Linked DNA regions of Homo sapiens: region 2 is linked to region 1. Evidence: fine-mapped expression QTL. A gene starts in region 1. The other region holds a variant in brackets. All regions are shown on one strand. Distances are between the middles of the regions. Region 1 holds the start of YARS1 (tyrosyl-tRNA synthetase 1). Region 2 overlaps RNF19B (ring finger protein 19B).

Region 1 (10,207 bases):
ATGCTCTTGACTTCTTACTTCACTCCCCAACCATCTTTTTCACTGATAGTTTCACTCCTACTACAGTAAATGGTACCATCATTTAGAGTTGTTCAAGGACTCCAAAACTGCTCTTCAACCCTCCTATTTCTCTCTGCCTCTACATCACCACCCAAATCCAGGCCCTATCAGATCACACCAGGATTACCGTAACATTCTCCTAACAGGTCTCCCAAATCTACTCTTACTCCCTCCAATCCAAGTTCTTTTTTATTTTTTTGAGACGGAGTCTTGCTCTGTCACCCAAGCTGGAGTGCAGTGATGCAATCCTGAGTCACTGCAACCTCTGCTCCCGGGTTCAAACGATTCTCCTGCTTCAGTCTCCCAAATAGCTGGAATTACAGGTGCCCGCCACCAGGCCAGAGAAATTTTTGTATTTTTAGTAGAGATGGGGTTTCACTATGTTGGCCAGGCTGGTCTTGAACTCCCAACCTCAAGTGATCTGCCCGTGTGGGCCTCCCAAAGTGTTGGGATTACCGGCATGAGCCACTGCGCTTGGCCCCTCCAATCCATGTTCTAAAAGGTAGCCAGAGACAGTCTTTTAAAACTCAAAAACTTCTTTAAAACTCATTTTCCTTTTTACAAACCTTTAATGATTTCTTTTTGTCCTATGACAGTATTGGAAAAATTCTAACAGGCCAGTGTACCCCGATAAGAGGTTGTAGTGTTTCCTCAAGTTACGGTTTTGGGAGGCTGTCAGAAACCATGATAGACTGCTGGTTTGAATCATGTTTTACCAGGACTTGTTAAACTCCTGTGCTCCAAGTCTTTTGGCAGCTGATCCCGCATGCTCAAGAGCACCCCTGACAACGTGGACACTTGGAGGGTTCTCACCATCCAAGAAGATGTCACATTACTTAGCCTTTAAAACCTGAGTGAGGCCGGGCACTGTGGCTCACTCTGTAATCCCAGCACTTTGGGACGCCGAATTTGGCGGATAACTTGAGGTCAGGAATTTGAGACCAGCCTGGCCAGCATGGTGAAACCCCGTCTCTACTAAAAATACAAAAATTAGCCCGGCGTGGTGGTGCACGTCTGTAATCCCAGCTACTCAGGAGGCTGAGGCAGGAGAATCACTTGAGCCCAGGAGGCAGAGGTTGCAGTGAGCTGAGATTGTGCCATTGCACTCCAGCCTGGCCGACAAGAGATAAACTCCGTTCCAGAAAAAAAATCCCCAAAACAAAAAACCCAATTGAGTCAATTCTAATAGTTTTGTGTATTTTTAGTCTCCAACCAGCACTATTTTATGGAGAGAGAATAGGAAACAAAGAATCTAGCTAGGGGAAGCGTGCAAAAACCTTTGGTTAAGACTAAGTTGTAAATGGAATAACCCAAATGTCCATCAACTGATGAACGGATAAACAAAATGTATATCCATACAACAGAGTATCATTCAACCATAAAAAGGAATGACGTTCTGCTAGGTGCAAATACATGCATGAACTTTGAAAACATTATGCTAAGTGCAAAAAGTCAGACACAACAAACATATTGTATGATTCTAGTTACAGGAAATGCCCAGAATACGCAAATACCTGGAGACAGAGAGTAGATTAGTGTTTCTCTAAGGCTAGGAGTAGTGGGTAATAGGTAGCGTCTGCTAACGGGTGCAAGTTTTATTAGATAGTGTGATGGTTGTGGCCGGGAGCCGTGGCTCACGCCTGTAATCCCAGCACTCTGGGAGGCCAAGGAGGGTGGATCACGAGGTCAGGAGATCGAGACCACCCTGGCTAACACGGTGAAACCCCGTCTCTACTAAAAATACAAAAAATTAGCCGGGCGTGGGGGCGGTCACCTGTAGTCCCAGCTACTCGGGAGGCTGAGGCAGGAGAATGGCGTGAACCTGGGAGGCGGAGGTTGCAATGAGCCGAGATTGGGCCACTGCACTCCAGCCTGGGCGACAGAGCGAGACTCCGCCTCAAAAAAAAAAAAAAAAAAAAAGATAGTGTGATGGTTGCACAACCTTGTGAACATACTAAAACCCACTGAATTGTGCACTTTAAAAGGGTGAATTTTATAGTATGTGAAGTACATCTCTAAAAAGAAAAAACAGAACAGGCTGTGTGGCCCAACTGATTTATCACTACTCTTAGAAGGAAGCCCAATTTAAAATTGAACAGAATAAGGCCTGCAAGGCTCCCGTGACTTGGTCCCTGCCTACCTCTCTTAAACAAATAAATAAAATGTATACTATGTAGAAACAATAACAAAAAAAAGGCAGAGCAAGGTATGGGGCAGTTCTGGTGCCAGAGGGTTTGTTATTTAAATAAAGTGGTCGGAAATCATGCGTCGCTGATAAGGTGACAACAGTCAGAAGCCTGAAAAAGTTAAGGGGTAAGCAATATAAATATTTAAGTGCTTCCTCATAACTTTGCTCACTCCACTCCAGCTAAATTTGCCACAATTTCTGTTTCCTCCATCTGAAATGCTCTCCCTCCTTATTCTTCCATTCTTCCTCTGGTTCACTTCTACTCCTGTAGTTCTTGGTAACAAACGGAACATTTGTGGAGTGAGGGGGGGGGATCCATTTCCTTCAAGGCGCAGTTTGGAGGTCACTTCCTCAGGGAAGCCTTCCCTTCTCTCTTTCCCTTTAAAGCTCCCAGTATAGCATCTTCCAGTACTTACTTGAACCGTAATGGGTCATTTTTAACGTCTGATCCCCTTCAGACAAGCTCTGGCAGGCCCTTGACGTATCCCCAGCGACTAAGCACCACGTCTGGCACTTAATAGGGGGGTGGAATGGGAGTCCTGGATTCAAAGTTTGGCTCCAACACAAGACAACTGGACGCAAGAGGTGAGCCCACTGTGATTTCTGGGGAACCCAGGGAAGGGCTGCTTGATTGACTGACCGACCAGCAGTGAGATCTACAGGCTCTCTCAGAGCTGCGCCAGCGCCGAGTCCCCGGCCCCACATACTTAGAACCCCGTAATGGGGCTCAAAATCACTGAACCTCGGGCTCCTAATCCCCAACGGCGCATTTCCAACCCCCAGGCCTGACCTGCAGGTTCCGGGTGATAAGGTGCAGTTTCTCTTCAGGGCTGGGAGCGTCCCCCATGGCTCCGCTACCCCTGCTTCCCCCGCTCAGCCCGGCACCAGAGCCCCTTCCTGGGTCACCGTCGCCGCCGCGTGCCGGGAACTGTCACGCGAGTCCAGCCAGGTTGCATCAGCTGGGCTCGGCGCTCCGCTTACTCGGCCTGGACCCCTCCGGCAGCGGCCGGAAAAAGTGAGGAGCAGCAGAGAGTCGAGCAGGTCGATGAGACGGGAAAAGGTGGAGCCAGTGGGCACGGTGGGCGGTGCGGAGGGCGGGGCTGAGGCGCCTGAGCGGGGCACAACCCTCCTAGAGGCGGGACGGTTTCCTGCCAATCACTGCTGGTTTGCCCTCCCCCTGGTGTTGGCCCGGCTGACTCGGGGTAGGGGAGGTCGGGGAGGGGGCGATAAAATGGCGCAGGGGGCGGAGTGAGGCGCAGTCGTTCGCCCAGGCTTTGGCCCGGCTTCCGGAGGTGAAGAGCGGGAGGGACGAGGGGGTCGGCGTTACCCGGCTTGGAGGGGGATGGGGGCGCCTGTTGCTTCTCCAGGGGGTTGCGCACGCCGTCCGCCCCTTGGAGGGATTGGGAGGCCCACGCCCTGCTGCGAGAAGGGCGCGTTCTAGCTCCTGAGGTGATGGCGAGGGAATGTCCCTGCCCCTCCACCTCCAAGTCGGCGGGCGACAGATGCCCCTCACCCCGCTGAGGAAAAGGGAAGCTCCCTGGTCGTCTTGAGAGTCGGGGAGCGCCGTCTGCAGTCCCCTGCCCAGTGGGGGTGGGGGCCGCCTCTGTCCCGGCCGGCTCGGCGGGAGGCTGTTGCTGGCGGGAAGATAGCCGCGGGCTTTTCTGCCGCGTCTCGCGGGTGGGGGCAGGAAGAGGACGACCCATTCCCTGGGGAGATCTGAGGACGGTGGTCCCCGGGAGAGGAGCGCACAGCACAGGCCTGCTGAGGGGCGGGTTTGCCCCTACTGGGGGAGGGGCGGGGAGAAAACTCTCGCTTCTCCCGCTTTCCGCCGGGAGGCGGGAATTCGCGGTGTCCCCGGGGGAGGGAGACGCAAAGGCCCTTCCTGGAAGGCGACACCGTCCCGGGCCGTTGCATTTGTGAGAGAGAGCCAAGGCAGTATCCTCCAAAGGTTGGGCCTGGGCCACCCTTTCTCCGGCTCCTCAAGGGCTGGAGGCGGCGTCACCAGTTACTTCCAGGGCAAGAGGGAAAGCAGTTATTACCTCAGTGGGCCCTGGAAAGGTCCTAGAAGTGGTTGAATTGCCCACGGCCTGCCCTAACCTGATCTCCGGTGTTTTGTGTATTTATTAGGGACTCCAAGCTCTACCAGACCTGCCTGAAGTGTTTTAAAGCACATTTTCTTTTTGAAAAGAAACCTGTTGCTGCAGCTTAGCGCATCTGTTCTCTGTGTCCATGTGGGAGGAGAATCCTGGCACCCTCATCTAGTGAAATGTTACCTAAAGCAAAGATTTGCAGCCCTGGGTTGTTTTTTCCGTCCTGCAGTGTTTTTAGTTACTTCGAAGGAATTTGCAAAACTGTTACAGATAATTTCAGTTCTTTTTGATTTTTTGTAAATGTTGTGCCTATTTTTTATGGAGTGATAAAGCCTGCTGAGTGCGTTTCGTGCTGTGTGCTTCACATGTATTGCATTTGGGAAAGGTTGGAAATCAAAGGCCAGGGGGAAGTCTTGTCCACTGGAAATAATCTCTGCTCTTGGCTGTACCTGTCAGACCCTGCTTGGTAATGGTCTTGACTTTAGAGCTTGAAAGAGGATGTGGGCTTGCATCTGGTGTTGCAGTTTTAGTGGCCTCAATAAAGTAAGGCTTTGTGCTCGAAGGCAGTAGGTTTTCTGAGGTGAGATAAAAATAGAAAGGGAACCAGTTTCTGAGGTTGCAACCAGGAGGTTCGAGAACAGAGAGGGGGTGGTAAACTGAAGTGTGAAGAAGGGGGTGGACAGGTGAGAGAGATGTGGAAGGACAGAATGGGGTCACAGAAAGGATGGGGTGTAGAGGAACTAAGAAATAGAATTAGAAGATCGGAAAAATATTCTTCCCTTAAAAATGAAGGGATATGGCCAGACATGGTGGCTCACGCCTGTAATCCCAGCACTTGGGGAGGCCGAGGCCGGAGGATTGCTTGAGGCCAGGAGTTCAAGACTAGACTGGCCAACATAGCAAAACCCCATCTCTACTGTAAATACAAAAATTAGCCTAGCATGGTGGACGCCTGTAATCCCAGCTACTGGGAGGCTGTGGCATGAGAATCGCTTGAAACTGGGAGGCAGAGGTTGCAGTGAGCCCAGATCACGCCACTGCATTTCAGCCTGGGTGATTGAGTGAGACCCTGTCTCAAAAATAAAAATAAAATAAAAAAATAAAGGGGTCCCCATATTTTAAGTGGAGGTTACCAGACAAGTGCTAAGAAAGGTGGTAGATGGTAGACAGAGAAGTAAGCAAGCCTTCTTTTGACAGAGAAGTAATAAGTAAGGCTGTCTTTGGAATTTCACTGAAGAACTTCAGTTTTATATGAGGATTTCCCCCCTTGCACATTCATTAAATACCATGTTTTTTTAGTATAGAACTTTTAGGTTTAGAGTACTTTCATAAACATCCTATTTTTTCTCATGATAATCTGTGTTTGAAGTTAACAGTATTTACCCCCTTTTTAGATGCATGTTCTCATCTGTATTGAAGTTCAGAGACTTGAAGTGAATTGCTGAGGTCCAGTACCTCTATAAAGGATAGTTCAGTGAACATTAATTTGCATAATTTGCCGGATATTTCAGATGTCTACCTAGTCTGGTCTTCAGTGACAATATGGTTGAGTGCTGGATTAAACTAGATAAGAGTAGAGTATATTAGATAATTTCAAGCAGGGTCTAGGGGAAATTCCCTACCAGTTTAGCACTCTTTTTTCCTACCGTTCCTATGCTTTTTTTTTTTTTTTTTTTTGAGATGGAGTCTCGCTCTGTCACCCAGGCTGGAGTGCAGTGGTGCGATCTCAGTTCACTGCAACCTCCGCTTCCTGGGTTCCAGCGATTCTCCTGCTTCAGCCTCCCAAGTAGCTGGGATTACAGGCATGCACCACACACCCGGCTAATCTTTGTATTTTTAGTAGAGACAGGGTTTCACCATGTTGGCCAGGCTGGTCTTGAACTCCTGACCTCAGGTGATCCACCCACCTCAGCCTCCCAAAGTGCTGGGATTACAGGAATCAGCCTCTGCGCCTGGCCCTATGCTTCTCTTAAGACTCCAGGGATCGGGGCAATGATGGTGGTGGGGTGAAATAATAACTATGGCCACCAGTTATTTGTCTCTTATGCCATGCCTCTAGTGTGCCACATTTATGTTCACGATCTCATTTAATTCTTGCCACAACCCTATCAGGTAGGTACTGTGATATATGAGGACATTTGATACTTCACAGAGTATAATCATTGTATCTTTCCCATTGACTTCATAATTTTAAGATGTTTTTATTATTTCAAGCATATAAAAAAGTATAGTGGCTGGGTATGGTGGCTCAATGCCTGTAATCCCAGCACTTTGGAAAACCAATGCAGAAGGATCGCTTGACTCCAGGAGTTCAATACCAGCCTGGGCAACATAATGAGACTATGTCTCTACAAAAAATAAAAATAAAAAATTAGCTGTGTATGGTGGTGTGTACCTGTAGTCCCAGCAGCCCTGGGGTTCAAGGCTGCAGTGAGCTATGATCACGCCACTGTTTTCTGCCTGGGCAACAAACCTGAGACCCTGTCTCAAAAAAATAACAATAATTTAACAGTGTAAAAGTAACATAATGAACATTATTATACCTAGCATGCTGCTTTGTCTTAGGTTGCCATATTTGTTTCAGGTCTCTTCTTGCTATTTTTTTTTCCTTATTTATTTATTGTCATGTAGCCTAAGATGAGATATTGTTTTCTTAAGAAATAAAACATTGGCCGGGCGCGGTGGTTCACACCTGTAATCCCAGCACTTTGGGAGGCTGAGGCGGACGGATCACGAGGTCAGGAGATCAAGACCATCCTGAATTCCGGCCTTTCATGCATATTTTAATAATTTTGTGATATATGTATCCATACATAATACGTGGTATTGTGGCTTTTTTGTTGTTGTTTTTTGAGACTGACTCTTGCTCTGTCACCCAGGCTGGAGTGCAGTGGCGCGGTCTGGGCTCACTGCAACCTCTGCCTCCTGGGTTCAAACAGTTCCCCTGCCTCAGCCTCTCGAATAGCTGGGGTTATAGGTGCGCGCCACCAAGCCCAGCTAATTTTTGTACTTTTAGTAGAGTTGGGGTTTCACCAGGTTGGTCCAGATGGTCTCGAACTCCTGACCTCGTGATCCGCCCTCCTCGGCCTCCCAAAGTGCTAGGATTACAGGCGTGAGCCACTGCGCCTGGCCTGTTTCTTTTTTCTTTCTTTCTTTTTTTTTTTTTTGATACAGTTTTACTCTGTCACCCAGGCTGGAGTGTAGTGGTGCGATCTCTGCCCACTGCAACCTCCGCCTCCTGGGTTTCAGCGAGTCTCCTGCCTCAGACTTCTGAATAGCTGGGGCTACAGGCCCGCGTCACCATGCCCAGCTAAATTTTCTTTGTAGTTTTAGTAGAAATGGGGTTCCGCCATGTTGGTCAGGCTGGTCTCGAACTCCTGGCCTCAAGTGATCCGCCCAACTTAGCCTCCGAAAGTGCTGGGATTACAGGCGTAAGCCATCTCGCGTATTGTTTTTTTAATAAAGTAATTGCAGGGGGAAAAGATCTGAAATTTTTAGATTAAAATACACATAAGACATTATCAGCCAGTCACATTGTATGGACCTTACTTGGATACTGATTATTTTTTAGCCTTAAAAAAAAATATGACATAAGATAATTGGAAATCTGAACTGTATATTTTATGATAAGGAATTCTTGTTATTTACAGATGAAATGATACAATGCCTGGGATTTGCTTCAAAACAATCTGGTAAAGGTGGGAAGTGGATGGGGCAAGATTAGCTATGAGTTGATAGTCATTGGGGTTGAGTGATGGGTATGTGGTGGTTCATTATACTATTATGTTACTTATGTATATGTTTTACTTTCTTTATAATAAGTACTTTTGAAAATGAGGAAATGGCCGGGCGCGGTGGCTCACGCCTGTAATCCCAGCACTTTGGGAGGCCGAGGCGGGCGGATCACCTGAGGTCAGGAGATCAAGACCATCCTGGCTAACACTGTGAAACCCCGTCTCTACTAAAAATACAAAAATTAGCCAGGCGTGGTGGCGGGCGCCTGCAGTCCCAGCTACTCGGGAGGCTGAGTGAAGCAGGAGAATGGTGTGAACCCGGGAGGCAGACAGAGCTTGCAGTGAGCCGAGATCGCGCCACTGCACTCCAGTCTGGGCTACAGAGCTAGACTCCGTTTCAAAAAAAAAAAAAAAAAAAGAGGAAGTAACATCAGACATCAGAAAGAGAATGGTTTGTACAAATTAAAATTATCTCCTCCTCTCTATATATACCATATATATGGTATTGTTTTGTATACTTTTGTTCCCAGATCTATTGGAACATAAGAAGCTCAGAAAAGCCCATTTTTTTGCATCTGAATGTCATGTTGTGTAGGAATTGATTATTGCAATGGTTACGAAGGATATTGGTCCTATTAAGGTGGCTTAAAATATTTTTTCCAAGAGACCAAAAGCCCTCTTTGGTCTTTACTCTTGCACAGTTTGTTATAGATTGTACTGAATTTAGAAGGCCTGAGTTTGGATTCTAGCTCTGCCATTTGCTGACCAATCCTGTGCAAGTCTGTCACAGATGTAGTGGGAAAAACATTGCATTTGGAATTAGACCTGGGTTTCGATCCTTGTTCTAACATTATTAGCTATGTATACTCAGTTAAGTTACTTCATGCTTCTGAACTTTAGTTTCCCAAGAGGGAAAAATCTATTGAACTCTCCATTTGGCCAACCAAGGGCTTGAACTAGACCTTTTGTAAGGAGTTAGAATGGGGGGCAATGGCCCAGAAAGGGCATCTAAGAAATGTAGCTGCTTAACCCCAGTGCCTGTGATAACCTGTCTGACAACCATAAATTTTCTTAAGTCAAAGAATGTTTTCCATACTAAACTTTTTTTTCTAACTGCTTCCTAAAGAAATGAATAACTCAGTCACTAATGCAGAGAAATTACTTTTCATAGAGGCAGCTGCTTCAACACCTAGAACTCTCAACAATTGCTGGAATATAGTATTGGTAAAATAAAATAAGTTTTAGCAGCTCTAGGTTTAAATACAACAAAATGATTTCTTTGATAAGATTAATTTTACAGAATTGTGTTGAGAGGCTAAGTTAGAGTCGTAAAATGTGTCTCAGAGCACCTGGTTTATAATAGGTATTTAGTATTTCTTTTTCTCCCATTTCATTTCTAATATGAGTAAGTTTAACTAGGTCCCTTCTAATTCTAGAACTCTATAATCCCTCCCTTTGCTTCTCTTTCTCTAGTACTTTATTGTCCATACCATTTTATATTATCTCATGTTGGTGTTTAATTTTCAGTGTTGTTTCTCTAGCAAGATTATACATTAAGATTATACATTACGTATTATACATTATGAGGGCAGGAGCTATACCTTGATTTGTTGGAAATCATAAAGAGACATATGCAGCTTGTGGTGTGTGATGATTGTAGCTCAAAAAATATCTTCTAAAAGAATGCATGAACTAGGCTGGGTGCAGTGGCTCACGCCTATAATCCCAGCACTTTGGGAGGCCGAGGCAGGCGGATCACAAGGTCAGGAGATGGAGACCATCCTGGCTAACACAGTGAAACCCCATCTCTACTAAAAATACAACAAATTAGCCGGGCGTGGTGGCGGTCACCTGTAGTCCCAGCTACTCGGGAGGCTGAGGCAGGAGAATGGCGTGAACCTGGGAGGCGGAGCTTGCAGTGAGCCAAGATCGCAAGATCGTGCCACTGCACTCTAGCCTGGGCAACAGAGTGAGACTCCGTCTCAAAAAAAAAAAAAAAAGGAATGCATGAACTAAAGTTAAAGCTCAGGGTGTGGTATGGAGGGTCATGGAGTAGGGGAAATTTTATAGTTAACAAGGCTACAAGTACTTTTCCAAATTTTTGAGTTCAGTATTTAAGCATTTCTTATACTTCT
Region 2 (10,207 bases), 130 kb after region 1:
GAAATCAAACATTTAACAATCAAATTACCTCCAGGGAATGAGACTGAAGGACATACAGGAGCCAACCTCTTCCCTCCTCTTGGAGCAGCAAACTTTCCCAATAGTGTCTCAGAGCCCATAACTATTGCCTTTCTTGGCTCCAACATCACTTTGTTGCACAGTTAAGTATTTCCTTATAATGGGTTTCACAGTCAAACCCATCTGACTCATTCACTTCCTATAAAATAAAGGCTTTCACAGAACTAGAACAGCTGGACTGGCTAAGCTGCAGTTTCAGCAAGTCAGTCTCCAATTATGTCTGTCTGCTTATTTACAGGGGTGTTGGTTTTAAGAAAGCACAGCAGTGAATATGCCAGCATGTGGGGGCGGGATCCCCTGATAAGAGACAACCAGAGTCATGAGATGCACAGACGGGTCAGTAGCAGCCTGCAGCTGCACATTCAAGCAGCTTCCATCCTACTGCCTGAGCCTTTGCTTTGCTGCTCCAGCTTCAGGTGCCCTTCAAAAATGTGCCAAGGCCCAGGGAAATGAGGGAATGCAATGGAAAGTGCACAGTGTCAGAGACCTGGCTTCTAGTTTCAGGTCTGCCACAGAATCACTCTGAGTTGGAAGAGTCTTTCAGAAAGGGCTCCTACTTAGGTGGTTGTCAGATGCTGGTTCATGCAACGGCTGTGCTAGAATTACCTGGGGAGCTTTTGCAAAACACGGATCACCCCCTAGGTGCCACTCCAGGAAATTCTAAGCTACTCATTCTGGGATGGGTCCCTGAAGTCTATTTTTAAGAGGCTCCCAAGTGATTGACAGGCACTCAGGTGGGAGATCCAGTCCACCTGCCATCTGTTGCTTGAATCCTTCTTATAGCCAAATAGCCATCTGGTCTCATTGTAAACATTTCCAGGGATAGGCAGCTCAGTATCTACTAAAGTAGCCTTTTTCCTCTTTGGGCTTTCATGTTGCTTTTCCCTATATTCTCTATACTGAACCAAAATTAGTTTCCCTTTAGCTTCTGCCAAGTCATCTTAATCTACCTTTTGGTATGAGGCATAGAAGTCTAATCCTTTTCACAGTTGAAGGTCCTTTGGATAGCTGAAGGCAACCATCTCCTCTACCTTCCTATCCTGCTTTGTTCTACCTTTACCCCTCCCTAGGCCTTTCTTCTCCGTTGCATTCAACTGCTTCTCAGGCAACATGTTATGCTCCTCTGAAAATATACACTCTGGTCTGCCTAACTAGTGAAATGACCAAGCAAGTCACAATCTTTTTAGTTACAAAGCTTTACATATTTTCAACACAAGTACATAGAATTGATTTTCCTTATCTAGCAAATGGAAATAGAAAGGTAATAAGGATTGCAGTATCACTAAACCAGCTGGGGGCAATGGTTCATGCCTATAATCCTAGCACGTTGGGAGCCAAGTTGGGAGGATGGCTTCAGGCCAGGAGTTTAAGACCAGCCTGGGTAACCGAGCAAGACCCCATCTCTACAAAAAATTTAAAATGTTAGCTGGGTGTGGTGTGTGCACTTGTAGTCCTAGCTACTCAGGAGGCTGAGGTGGTAGGATTGCCTGAGTCCAGGAAGTTGAGGCTGCAGTGAGCCATGATTGTGCCACTGCATTCCAGCCTGGATGACACAGTGAGAAAAAAAACAAAAAAAAATCCCCAAAGCCCACTATCAATAAACCATGATGGGCTGGGTGTGGTGGTTCATGCTTGTAATCCCAGCACTTTGGGAGGCTGAGGCGGGTGGATCACAAGGTCAGGAGCTTGAGACCAGCCTGGCCAACATGAAACCCTGTCTCTACTGAAAATACAAAAATTAGCCAGGCATGGTGGTGCACGCCTGTAGTCCCAGCCTCTTGGGAGGCTGAGGCAGGACAATCACTAGAACCCAGGAGGTGGAGGCTGCAGCGAGCCAAGATTGCACCATTGCACTCCAGCCTGGGCGACAGAGCAAGACTCCGTCTCAAAAAAATAAAATAAAATAAATAAGCCATGATACAGCATAAATGCTACTGAAAGCCAATGACAAGCCTAACGGAGAGCATTTTACGAATTCTATAAAAATGCCTACTCTCCCTTCCTGAAGCAGGCAGCCTCAGGCAGTCAAGGGGGAATCTCAAGTCAGGATTATTCTTTATATAGAGGCAGCTATGGTGCAATGGAAAGAACAATGAACTTTGCATAACTGACGTAACCTTTTTTTCTAAGCTTGTTTCCTATTTGTAAAAGTAAAAAAAAAAAGGCCTGTCGCAGTGACTCATGCCTGTAATCCCAACGGTTTGGGAGGCCAAGGCGGGCGGATCACGAGGTCAGGAGATTGAGACCATCCTAGCTAACATGGTGAAACTCCATCTCTACTAAAAATACAAAAAATTAGCTGGGCGTGGTGGCGGGTGCCTGTAATCCCAGCTACTCAGTAGGCTGAGGCAGGAGAATCGCTTGAACCCAGGAGGCGGAGCTTGCAGTGAGCCGAGATCACGCCATGGCACTCCAGCCTGAGCCACAGAGTGAGACTCTGTCTTTAAAAATAAAAAAGTAAAAACAAAACAAAACAAAACCATTGACAATTAAATCAAAATAAGATGATACGTGGCACAAGCCTGGCACAGAGAAATGGCTCAATGTGTTACTTCTTATAATTCTAACCATTTCTGTCAGAAATTATCTATTTGTTTACCTGCTATATTTTCCCTTGCCACTGGAGAGAATGCCGCCACTCAGCGTGCCCCCTGAGAGGGCTGCAAAGCTGGCCGTTTCGCTGTAAGGACCTTGCATAACACTAAGTCCATCTGTAGGGCTTCCACTAGTGCTCAATACACTAGTCAGGCCTTCAATGCTGCTTTCCCCAATGCTGGGATTCTTGAGGGCTCTCCAGGCATCTGCCACTGGGGATAGAACCAAACATCCAATTCAAGACAGCAGAGCATCAAAACAGTCAGTAGGCATTTTCCTGCAATGACTTTTCAGAGAACTAATGTATTTACTTAATGAACAGGTACTGTGTGCAGTCGCCACATATCAGGTGTTTTAACATATGTTCATATTTAATCCTCCAAATAACTAGGCATTAATAGCCTCAATTTTAGATGAGAAAACTAAAATTTAAAACTAAATGACTTGTCCAAGGCCATGGTAGTTACATGAAACTATAACTCTGATTCCAAGGCCACTATTCTTTCCACTACACTGTTGCTTCCATGTAACCAAACGTGAAGATTTAAAAAATATGTTTGGGTCATGTGCTGATTTTAATAGGAAGCTTCTAGTAGAAAGCTAGAAAAACCGGCCGGGCGCGGTGGCTCACGCCTGTACTTCCAGCACTTTGGGAGGCCGAGGCGGGCGGATCACGAGGTCAGGAGATGGAGACCATCCTGGCTAACACGGTGAAACCCCATCTCTACTAAAAATACAAAAAATTTAGCCGGGCGTGGTGGCGGGTGCCTGTAGTCCCAGCTACTCGGGAGGCTGAGGCAGGAGAATGACGCGAACCCAGGAGCCGGAGCCTGCAGTGAGCCAGGACCATGCCACTGCACTCCAGCCTGGGCAACAGAGCAAGACTCCGTCTCAAAAAAAAAAAAAGAAAAGAAAAAAGGAAGCTAGAAAAACCTTTGGGGTTTTCTACGTTACTTGTGCCCTACGTTACTTACTACGAGTAGAAACCACATTAAAGTAAAAGTCAGAAGACTTGCCCTAGTCTCAGCTCTGTGAAGCTCTTAATAGATAGTAAGATGAAAGCTTAAAGAAATTCCCATTTAGGCCAGATGTGGTGGCTCACACCTGTAATCCCAGCACTTTGGGAGGCCAAGGTGGGCGGATCATGGGGTGAGGAGATCGAGATCTTCCTGGCTAACACGGTGAAACACCAAACCCCGTCTATACTAAAAAAAAAAAATTAGCCAGGCGTGGTGGCACGTTGCTGTAGTCCCAGCTACTCAGGAGGCTGAGGCAGGAGAATCACTTGAACCTGGGAGGCGGAGGTTGCAGTGAACCGAGATCGCGACATCGTACTCCAGCCTGGGTGACAGAGACTCCGTCTCAAAAAAAAAAAAAGAAATTCCCATTTAAATGGGGATAACAGCTCCATCCTCCCTCGTCAGAGAGCTGTTTGTTGTAAAAAGCAAGTGAGATAATTGTGTAAAATACTCTGAAAATTATCAAGTACTGTGCAGATATAAAGATGTTATTATAATCACTACTACTACCAGCATACTTGGAGTTACTTGGATTCCTACTAGTTTGTACCTGCCACACAGAGGCAAGTACCAGGGGAATTAACCTAATAACTTTGGAACAAAGAAATGAAAAGCTAAAAATACTTTACCCCCTACAAAGCTCATTATCCAAAGTAATCCAATGACAATCTCCCTGTAAAATGCGCTGAATTTTACTGATTTTTATCTTGTATATCATAAATTCAAATGGAAATAAACATCCTGCTTTTTACCTGTGATTGGACCATCATCTTCATCAAATTCAATTTTCACTCCTTTTCCGTTGGCTGTGCTAACTCCACAGCCGCCTCCACGACAAAGAGAAATGGGCACAACCCCATAAACATATGCCAGCATAATGGGGACACCAATACCTGGGGGAAGAGAAGGAAACATGTCAGCTGGCTATTAGGTTGCAAGTGCCCTGAATTCTTCTTCCCAGTCTGGGCATGGACAAACCACTTTATAAAGAAAGGAAGACAGAAAGTGGCTATCCCAAAAAGGTGGCCTGGTGTAACAGAATGATGACCAGGCTAGAAATCAGAAAGGTCTGGATTAGATTCTTGGCTCCATTTACTAGCTGTATAACCTTGGACCTATCTTCCCAGGGTTGTCAATAATCAAATGAGAATGCTATGTACTGTGTTTTGCAC[A/G]GTAAATATATGTTGCTTTCATTTTCCCCTCTTCTAATCACTGCTGAAATGCTAACCCAATCAAGAGCCAATCAAGAATCAAATATTAAATAAGTGACTACTGCTTGGAGTTTAGGATCTCCTCAGGATGTTAATTCCAAAATCTTACTGCTGTGTGAGGTAGAATGGCTTAGCTGTTAAGAGAACAGGATCTGAAGGCAGATTAACTTGATTCATGTCCCAGCTAAGTGACCTTGGGAAAATTACTGCACCTTTCTTTTTTTTTTTTGAGACGGAGTCTCACTCTGTTGCCCAGGCTGGAGTGCAGTGGCACGATCTCGGCTCACTGCAAGCTCCGCCTCCCAGGTTCACGCCATTCTCCTGCCTCAGCCTCCCAAGTAGCTGGGACTACAGGCACCCGCTACCACACCCGGCTGATTTTCTGTATTTTTAGTAGAGATGGGGTTTCACCGTGTTAGCCAGGATGGTCTCGATCTCCTGACCTCGTGATCCGCCCGCCTCGGCCTCCCAAAACACTGGAATTACAGGCGTGAGCCACTGCGCCCAGCCAATTACTGCACCTTTCTATTAAAATTGTGCTTCCTTTTGTAAGGATTGTGAGGATTAAATAAATTAATATATGCAAAAGTCTCAGAACCACTCCTGGCACATGAAGAGCCACATTAAATGTTAGTTACACTATTATTATTCTAAAACAAACTCTTATGCCTCCCAAAGTAATGTGAAGCATTAAACAAATCAAAACAAAAGTAATTTTGTTTTGTGGATTTCATGGCAAGTAGAGAAGGAAGATGAAAGGTGAAAACTAGGGCTTAAAATAAGTTTCTGTAATTCAACCTTTTCTATGTGCCAAATGGAGTTCTAGGCACTAACTTAAGAACAAAAGATTGCACACTCTGATAATTTGGTGTGCTTGAAAAACTTAAAAATAATCATAATCATGGTGCCTAACAGAATTTACTATCAAGGTGGGTTCGCATAAAATGTAGGAGTCTTTGAGAAACATCTGGCCATCTGGCTAAACTGCTATGGTCAGAAAGCTGAGAGAGAAGAGGTGTGGTCCTGACTAGCTTACCAACACTAACTGCAGCAATAACTGGGGATGCAATGACCGACAAAGTCACTCCTCCAGTGATAGCCAAATTCCTCTTGTGTTTGGAGGTTTTCCTTCCCTCATACCTGCTGTGAATCTAAGAATAAAAAAAGAAAATCCAGGTCAGCAGGTTAGGACATCAATCTTTTGCCAGAGAAAAAAAGGACAGGTGAATATTCACTTGTAAGTTATCTATATTAAAACATATCCTCTACCCCAAATAGGCATCTTTATCAAATTTTAACCTAACTCAGACCTGGAAGATATAAAGTAATACAGGCAAAGTTAATCCAAAAAGAGACAAAATAACTCCAGCAGAATGAAGTAAGCATTTTACCTTCTTCTTTTATTTTTTTTTTTGGAGTCTGTCATGCAGGCTGGAGTGCAGTGGTGCGATCTTGGCTCACTGCAACCTCTACGTCCCTGGGCTCAAGCAATCCTCCCACCTCAGCCTCCCTAGTAGCTGGGACTGTAGGCACATGCCACCATACCCAGCTAATTTTTCTATTTTTTTGGGTACAGATGGGTTTTGTCATGTTGCCCAGGCTGGTCTCAAACACCTGGGCTCAACTGATCTACCTGCCTTGGCTTCCCAAAGTGCTAGGCCACGTATTACAAATGTGAACCATCATGCCTGGCCCAGCATTCTACCTTTAAGTCACTGAGACAAGCCAGGCCCAGGATGTTAATAAGAACTTTCAGATCTCATGGGGGTTTATGAAAATCCATTTAAGAAAGTAAGGTTATTTTTATCTAAGAACCAGCTGGTTTTCAGGCAGCTCTGAAACATAGCTCCTTCCCATTTCCCTCAAACCTTTACTAACGAACCTAAAGTTGAAACAAGCACAGAAACCAGCATGTCTTTCTTACCTTCCTTCCAACATAAACAGGAATGCCAATGACCATGGCAGGAATGGCAATGCCAGCAATGAGAGAAATCCCCACTGGAGCACCAATCAACGTGCCCAGCTGCCAAAGAATTTTCTTCTTACGGCTCCATGGCTTCTTGCCCCAGAATGTACAGCCAGAGGGGCTGCAGGGGAAACAGACTGAAGTTAATGTCAACATTACAAATACAGCTAGTATTATCATAGGGCTTGATAACAGCAACAGCCTTCTTTTCAGTAAGGATTAACAGAAGAGTTTATGGGAAATGAATACATTACACAAGGGAGAGCAAAGGACAAGGCCAGACTATTAGAGCTCTGGGCTCTTTAACTTTTTTGGTTGTTGTTGTAAAGACAGGCTTCCAGACTTGAAATTCCTTTTCCATTCTTCTCTGCTGAATTCTGTCTTCCCTAACCCACCAAAACTGATCTAGCTTCCATGACTGACAATACTTGGGATGCTGCATAGCCTTATGCACTTGACATCCCATCCAGACACACTGCACCCTGCACTAATGAACACTCTGATTTGTGTAGTTTTCTTGGCATATGTCCTACCATACCTAATAGATACTGCAAACCATGTTCGTGGGAGAGGATATAAAAAGACCTCATCATAACCTTTCTATCAGTTTGGTATTCTGAGTTTGGCTACTTTTACAGTCAGCCCTTCTGTGCCCAACCATTTTTGCCCATTCTCTTTGTGCTATCTTCTCCACTAGAAGGGATAAACAATTTTGAAAATAGGGATCATGTCTTACTCACCCCTATGTCCCCAATGACTAGCACACAGTAAGTACTCAAATGTTCGACAAATTGGCAATGAAGGTGTTGTGTTTCATTTACACAATGAATGTTTGTTTGTAAATATTAACACATTTTGTTTATTTGTAAATATTAGCAAACATTTTGTTTGTAAATATTAACTCCTCCACAACATTTTAATATTCACTCAATGAGGCTGGGCGCGGTGGCTCGCGCTTGTAATCCCAGAACTTTGGGAGGCCGAGGCAGGCGGACCACCTGAGGTTCGAGTTCGAGACCAGGCTGGCTAACATGGTGAAACCCCGCCTCCACTAAAAATACAAAAATTAGCTGGGCATGGTGGCAGGTGCCTGTAATCCCAGCTACTTAGGAGGCTGAGGCAGGACAATCACTTGAACCTGGGAGGTGGAGGTTGCAGTGAGTCGAGATCGAGCCACTGCACTCCAGCCTGGGCGACAGAGAGAAACTCTGTCTTAAAAAAAAAAAAAAAAAGAATTCACTTAATGAATTCCTTGGGAACTCACTAAATGCAAAAAACTGTAAAAAGGTCACAACTCTAGCCTCAAGATACTTACAGTTTAGTAAGATAAGATAGGTACGTGAAGTGTAAAGTACTGACGATATTTATGACAAAAGATAAAAGAAAGTCAAAGAATGAGGCGGAAAAAGGAGAGGCAACATGGATGAAAGGCATTTAAGTGGCTCTTAAAAGATAAGAACTGAACAAGTTGAGATAAAAGGAGGATACTGGAAGGTAGGCAGAAAGCATTCTAGGCAAAGGAAAGAACATGAACAAGTATGGAGGCAAGACAGCAAAAGGGAAAAAGCAAGTCCAGACTACCTGTAATATGGCAAGCAAAGAAAGGTAGAAACAGAATAGTAGCTGGTGAAAACATGATTAGAGGAGCATGTCAGAAGAAGTTTTCACAGCTTCCTTAAACCTGTAATGAGAGAACGGATGTGTCTTTTTGACATCCTTTTCCCTAAATCAGTAAGAGAATGAGACTACGAAAGGAATGGATGCATTTCCCATCTTACCTGAGGTAATGCAAGTCTGAGATCTCTTTCATACAAAGCCAACAGAATTCACAGCCACACACTGCACAGGTCATGTGATTACAGCTTCCATCATTCATCTTGATAATGTATGCACTGCATCGTGGGCATGGCTTGATGTCATCTGCTATGAGTGGGGGAAGAATGGGTAGAAAAAATACCCCTAGTTAAATCCAGTTTGATTTAATTGTTCCTAGGAGTATATATAAGAAATGAGGCAGCAGTCAAGAACTCTTCACTGAACACTCCAAATTGTACAACCCACTTTACTGGAAGGTTGGCTATGTCTAGACCTCAGGAATTTTCATAAAATGAATCCTGTCTCTTATTGAGCTGCCTATCCCAACAACTGGCATCTTACACAGCACTTGAACCACATTCTAGCAAGGAGATTTCCTTAGGGAGAAAGATGTTTCCAAGAAAAATGAAATTTCTACCAGTCGATAGGCTGGTAGATTTAAAAGAAGAATCCTACAGAAAGAATAGCCTGCAGCCTGGAATTAGCTTTACATTTTTAAAAACTTTAGTTTGGGAAATTTATTTTTCAGGTTCAACATGTATCATTGTGATTTGCTGTTAACATAGCCCACAATCCCTTCCCATGATACTTTCAAATTCAAAACCTAAAAACAACTGGGTATGCTATCTACCATATACTTGGTAATTTTCAGAGCAAGTTATGAACTATCCTAATAAAATGACAATTTAGGAAATTATGCTGTGCCAGGAAAAAGTGAATGGCAAAATCTTTCCTACTAGCCTCTCCCAAATGACATCAGCAAAATAAAAGTACAAAGCAATAAATCCACTGACATTTTAAAATAGGTTTCCTCTGACTCGCCAAGGTTGGAGCTGAATGTGTGACATTCCTCCTTTTAAGGTTAATCATTAATCTATACTAATACTGTTTCCTTTTCTTCAATCTGTACTCTACTTCCAAAGGCAGTGAGGCACTTAAGTCAGCTTGAAGGCAAACAGCACAGGTTTAATACTAATTAAATGTCTTTCTGTTCACAATGAAAGTTTTGAAAAAGCCCCTAGCAAAACAAAATGAACTAATTGCTCTCCAATCTGAGACATATTACTAAGAAAGTAGGAACTACATAATTCAATTTTGTTGCATTTCAATTTTATATAGTTGGATAACCTATAATGGTCAGAGAGGGAAGTGCTATCTTTATTATAATATTGAAAGTATTATCAAATGATATTTTCTGCTCTCTGATCCTTTGGAGTACTTGGGTTATACAATAAGATAATTTCTTTCAGCTATGGGCTCACATCATGAAATACCAAATAAAGAGACAATGAGATAATGCCAACTTATACCTGGTCCAGATTCTTGCCCATAACTGAGACCTGAAGTGTGTTTGGTCCGAACTCGTAAAGTCTGGGCCCTCTGTTGACGGGCCATATCGCATGTCTGATTTGGATGCCATATCTGCTTGCAGTGGTAGCAGAACTCAGTCTGGCAACCTTCCCTCTCACAAGTTAGCTTCGGGCAGCTGGCACAGCCATAGGCAATAACAGCATAACTAGGTA

Evidence for each region. PIP is the estimated chance that this variant, and not a neighbour inherited with it, causes the effect. A credible set is the group of variants that fine-mapping cannot tell apart.
Region 2: its variant is the best candidate, but not a certain one, in a credible set for the expression of YARS1 in whole blood (INTERVAL, PIP 0.59).

The regions. Positions count from the first base shown.
Region 1 is chr1:32,814,150-32,824,356 of GRCh38, forward strand. YARS1 (tyrosyl-tRNA synthetase 1) reads right to left here and starts at 3,209. Exons shown (of 13, transcript NM_003680.4): 1 at 3,039-3,209. The coding sequence starts at 3,095. It overlaps S100PBP (S100P binding protein), which reads left to right and starts at 3,504. Exons shown (of 7, transcript NM_022753.4): 1 at 3,504-3,540. RefSeq lists enhancers at 2,321-2,822, 2,823-3,322, 3,071-3,380, 3,748-3,917, 4,351-4,460 and 2 more.
Region 2 is chr1:32,939,575-32,949,781 of GRCh38, forward strand. RNF19B (ring finger protein 19B) reads right to left here. Exons shown (of 9, transcript NM_001300826.2): 2 at 9,995-10,200; 3 at 8,648-8,789; 4 at 6,828-6,990; 5 at 5,940-6,054; 6 at 4,445-4,585; 7 at 2,678-2,885. Among named protein-coding and RNA genes, the nearest start is that of RNF19B, 20 kb to the right of the region's middle. RefSeq lists an enhancer at 7,979-8,480. The variant A/G (reference allele first, on the strand shown) is at 4,865.